Regions from separate parts of the Homo sapiens genome. Here region 2 is linked to region 1. The links come from fine-mapping of genetic effects on gene expression. Tissue or cell type: tibial nerve. Region 1 holds a variant in brackets; the other region holds the start of a gene. All regions are shown on one strand. Distances are between the middles of the regions.

The links. PIP is the estimated chance that this variant, and not a neighbour inherited with it, causes the effect.
Region 2: it holds the start of WDR37, and the variant in region 1 is fine-mapped to the expression of WDR37 in tibial nerve (GTEx, PIP above 0.99). The same link has a PIP of 0.9 or more in pancreas, subcutaneous fat and whole blood.

What each region holds. Positions count from the first base shown.
Region 1 is chr10:1,094,338-1,097,021 of GRCh38, reverse strand. WDR37 (WD repeat domain 37) reads right to left here. Exons shown (of 14, transcript NM_014023.4): 9 at 776-852. Among named protein-coding and RNA genes, the nearest start is that of WDR37, 39 kb to the right of the region's middle. RefSeq lists an enhancer at 185-1,384. The variant T/C (reference allele first, on the strand shown) is at 1,296.
Region 2 is chr10:1,055,033-1,057,716 of GRCh38, reverse strand. It overlaps WDR37 (WD repeat domain 37), which reads right to left and starts at 1,332. Exons shown (of 14, transcript NM_014023.4): 1 at 749-1,332. It also overlaps a transcript of IDI1 not described here. RefSeq lists enhancers at 615-674, 775-834, 1,635-1,684 and silencers at 935-1,364, 1,795-1,854.

The sequences.
Region 1 (2,684 bases):
GGATCACTTTCTTCCGGTTCCCCGTGACCTGTCCCTCGCCTCCTCTAAGCCTCAGCAGAAAGGCCTTCAACATCCACTTTTCCACAACATTCTGTCTATGATACCTGCATTCTCTGAGATGCTAGAAGCTTTCTCTCCAGCTCTCCCCTTTCCTCTCTGAGCCTTCACCCGAGTCCCCATTGATGTCCGTATTTCTACCAACAAGCTCTTCGCCGCTATGGAGGCTTTCTCCAGCAGGTCCCTGAAAACGTCTGCAGCATGTACCCATTCCCGGTCCCGAAGCCAGGTCCACACCGTCGGCATTTCTCCAGCAGCCCCCGCTCTGCGCGCGGTACTGAAATCTGTCTCAGTTGGCTCTGGCTGCCGCAACAAAAGGCCGCAGACCGGGCGACGCATAAAAAACAGACATTTATTTTCTCACAGTGCTGGAGGCTGGAAGTCCAAGATCAAGCCAATTCAGGTTCTGGTGCGGGCTCATCCTTAAAGACGGCCGCCCTCTGGCTCTGCTCTTACGTGACACGGAGAGTGACAGAGAGATTGAGAACACAGGTGAGCTCTCCACTGTCTCCTCTTATGAGGACCTCACGCAACCTCACTGAACCTTAACTACTACCTTAGAGGCCCAATCTCCAAATTCAACCATACCGGGGGTGAGGCCTTCAACACTGAACTTGGGGGGACACAAACATTCCGTCCATGACAGATATCATAAATGGATTCTCAGATTCGCAGACATCAGCATCCTACACATTCACAGGTAAGGAAAGGTGCTTACACTAGTGTCAGCAACAGGCTGGGGTGTCGGCAGCTGCACCGCGTATCTCCAGATATGAGCAGTCTGATCTCCAGAAGCTGAAGAGAGAAATCGGGGAAAATTACCCAAGGCACAGACCATGGTAAAATGCGCTCTTCACCGCCACTATGGCTAAGCAGCAGCAGTCAGACCTTTCCAGCTTAGTGACCACTTAGTGAGAGGAATGTACTTTTTACTTAAATAACTCTTTTCTGAGACTGCATAATGCTATTGAAAATAGAGTACATGTCCAAAATTGAGGAAATAATGATTACTTATAAAACTATTTCACCTTTCATTTTAGCATAGAAAGTCCTGGAAGTTCAGAGAAAATGTACAAATAGTAGATTTTCCTCTCCATCTATCTAACCTAAGAAACCCTATCATATCAGAACTTACAGCTGCAATCAACTCTGAGACGTTCGGGAAAGCGACACTCATCTCCATCCATTCAACACACACGCGGCCTTTCAATGGGCCAGGCACCTATCAGCACTGCTCA[T/C]GTGTGCGGCTCCCGTCCCACTCTGTTTTCAGCAGCCAGTTTGCGAGGAAACGCTTTGACTGAGGATTGGAAAGACAAAAGGACAGCACTGCGGGGCACAGAACAGGCCTCGGACACCAGCATGGCCACCTCTCACCCACACACGGGCAGGCTGGCTTCCACCTTCTCTTCACTGCCACCCAGCTTCTCTAAAGGAGCTGCTCTGAGCTGATGCAGCACATTTGATGCAAATGAATGTACTGCCCGGACTTGCAACTCCTCCTCAAATCAACATCATGCCCAATCCCAGTCTAACTCTCCTCTCTCCATGCCCGTTACCTCACGTTTCCCCTCTAACTCTCCTCTCTCCATGCCTGTTACCTCACGTTTCCCAGTCTAACTCTCCTCTCTATCCCCATTACCTCACATTCCCAGTCTAACTCTCTCCTCTCTATGCCCATTACCTCCAGTTTCCAAGTCTAACTCTCCCCTCTCCATGCCCATTACCTCACGTTTCCAAGTCTAACTCTCCTCTCTCCATGCTCGTCACCTCACATTTCCCAGTCTAACTCTCCCCTCTCCATGTTCATTACCTCATCTTTCCCAGTCTAACCCTCCTCTCTCCATGCCCATTACCTCACGTTTCCAAGTCTAACCCTCCTCTCTCCATGCCCATTACCTCACGTTTCCCAGTCTAACTCTCCTCTCTATACCCATTACCTCATGTTTCCCAGTCTAACCCTCCTCGCTATCCCCATCACCTCACGTTTCTCAGTCTAACTCTCCCTTCTCTATGCCCATTACCTCCTGTTTCCAAGTCTAACTCTCCTCTCTCCATGTTCATTACCTCATGTTTCCCAGTGTAACTCTCCTCTCTATCCCCATTATCTCACATTTCCTAATCTAACTCTCCCCTCTCTATGTCCATTACCTCACGTTTCCAAGTCTAACTCTCCTCTCTATCCCCATTACCTCATGTTTCCTAGTCTAACTCTCCCCTCTCTATGTCCATTACCTCATGTTTCCAAGTCTTCATCAGTTCCTGGATGTGTCTGGTTCCACCCTCTTTTCCAGCCCTTTGGTTTGAATCTGGACACGTCTAATTGCCACCAGTCTCCTTGCTCCCTTTTCAATCATCCCACAAACCGCCAACTTCGTAAGGTGTAAACTCCTTGTCTGCTTTAGTCTTCATCCACGTATGAAGGTGAAAGTCAGCTATGTGGTCTGGGCCTGCTCAAAATGACTCTCAGGCTAACCCTCCCACCACATTTCTCTCTCACATAGAAACTCCAACCAAACCGCATGACTCGCTGCATCCCACACACTGGAAGTACCTGTTGCTGGGGCTCCTTCTTAAACAACTCCACCTGCATGAAGGGGCCAGTCATCTCAACCTCAGTGTTCTATTCC
Region 2 (2,684 bases), 39 kb after region 1:
TATTTTCACTCACAACCTGGAAAAATGTATTTATTCAACTTGGTTTAGTAAATGAGTACATTATTATTGTTGCTCTTGTGTTATTCCGGTGAACAGCTGTCTTAAAATGTTTCCCTCCAGCGGTGGCTGCTTTCAGGGGGAAGGGAAGGAAAAGGAAGTCTTCAAAAGGGGAACAATATCATGGCGCTGTGTTAATCACTTCAGCATCCGTCACTCCACACTCACCACCCTTCTTGAAGCCGACCATCCCCACTCTTTGGAGAGAAGAAAGGCCATTCTCCTCTCTGAAGGGCCTCCCAAGTGCTTCCCTGGAGACGCACTTCCCCGGGATGCCCAGGCCGAAGCAAAGGGGGCGGGGAGAGACCCCGGGCCGAACCCTTCTGCCCCCAACCCCTCCAGCGCCCCGACTCTTCCTGGACTCCGACATCTTCTGCACCGCCCCGGGCCCCCATCCCTCCCGCACCCTGGTCCCTCTGGCACCGCCACGGACTACTCCTGCGCCCCGACTTCTCTTGCACCCTGAACCCTTCTGCACCACGGCCCTTCCTGCACCGCCACGGGTCCTCCAGGGACCCGACCCCTCCTGCACCACCACGGACCCTCTGCATTCCAAGCCCACCTGCACCCCATCCGCCACTATGCCCCGACTGCCCCTGCACCCCCTTGAGCCCTGCAGTGTCCCGACTCCTCTTCGGGGCATCCGGGGAACGACTCGGCGCCTGACAGGTAGGAAGATGGCGGCACTCACCTGTCACAGCAGCTGCGCCCGCCACCCCCGGAGCCAGCCCAGGTCGCGCACCGCCAGTGAGTCCCTACGACGCGGCCCCCCGTACTGACCCGAAGACGCGCAGGACACCGCTGTCTCCGCACTGACGCGACCCCACAACCCCAACCTGGCGCTAATGCACTTCCGGTGTCGCCGGAAGTCCCGCCCCAGTCCCGCGCCGCTGGGTTCTCCGGAAGCCGCCCCACACCTCCGCCCCACACCCGGCGGCGCCGGAAGTCACGCCCCGGCTTCCGCCCCGCAGCCCCGAGGGGTCTGGGCGCGCTGAAGACCCCTTCGGCTGCTGGGCCAACGCCCCCACCCTTGGTCACGTACTCCTGCCGCCGAGCGGTTCGCGGGAGGTGGCCTCGGGGGTCGTAGCTACTCACCGGCGGGGCGCTCCGAGTCCATCTGCCCCGTAGCCCGGCAGCCGGGGCGGGAGGGCTGCGAGCCCGGGGCGCGGTCCGCCTGAGGCCTGAGACCCGGGGCCGCCTGCGCTCAGGGCCGCGGTGCCGGCCGCGCGGGAGCCTGGCGGGGACGGCGCGGTCAGTGTTCGGCTCCTCCGCAGTGACTCACCAGCGTCCTGAAGCTTTTGATCACCATTGGCTGGGAAGGAAAAACAGAATCAGCTGTTCCCTGCGAAAGGTGGGACTTGGGCCGCTTTTTTCTTAGAATCTAGGTTGGAAACGTCGCATGATGGTCTTTACGTAAACAGCCGTCTCAACGCTCTACAGAAAGCGCTAACCGCGCATTTGAAGCCCACCTAGAGTAAATCAAGAGCGTGAAAGCATTTTTTTTTTCTGTGTAGGTTAACATTCCTGCTCCTTCCTTTAAAAAGGAAGCTCAAGGCCAGGCGCGGTGGCTCACGCCTGTAATCCCAACACTTTGGGAGGCCGAGGCCGACGTATCACGAGATTAGGAGGTCGAGACCAGCCTGGCCAACATGGTGAAACCCTGTCTTTACTAAAAATACAAAAACTAGCCGGGCGTGGCGGCGCGCGCCTGTAACCCCTGCTACTCGGAAGGCTGAGGCAGGAGAATCGCTTGAACCCGGGAGGCGGAGGTTGCAGTGAGCCGAGATCGCGCCTCTGCACTCCAGCCTGGGACAGAGCGAGCCTCCGTCTCCAAAAAAAAATAAGGAAGCTCAAGATGAAGAGTCAGAAGTGGTAACTTGTTTGTTGCACAAGAAACAAATTTAGCATTCTATTTAGGGGATCCAGATTACCAAAAAAAAAAAAGAAGTGAAGTTATTTCTGCATTAAGTATATTAATAAAACTTTATCACTAAAAACAATTCTGTAAGAGGAACGCCAAGGAAAAAAATATTTGAGTTTTTAGAGAAGTCATTTTTTAAACTTTTAGAGGTTGTGACATTTAAGTAACATAATTTTATTTAGTACCTAGTATGCAAAGACATTGTACTGGGCATGGCAGCAAATAGAAAGCTTTGTAAATCGCAGTGTCCCATCTAATTAACCCGCATTCTAACAGGTGGTTTTATTTTTCTGGACCGCACCACAGTCAGGTAACACCAAGAATATCGCTAATGTAATTTTTTAAGTTGATATATTTAGGATTCCATAAAAGTCACTGAAAATAACTGAGAGCATGACATGTCACAAAACAAGGGAAAGAAATCATTTTGAGGATCAGTCGCTTTACATCTTTTGTAACTAATTTAATCCCCAAAGGAATCCAATAAAGTAAAAGTTATTCTAAATTGAATTTTAAGCATGAGAATGTGGAAATTACTCGTCAAAAGTCAAAAATAATCGTGCAGCAGGGCAAAGACTAAAGGCTGGCATCAGAATCCATATTCTTTTCACTGTTGATGTGCTAGGGCTGCAGGAACAAAATACTGCAAACTAGGCAGCTTAAACAAATTTATTGTCAGAGGTCTGACTGGAAGTCCCAAATCAAG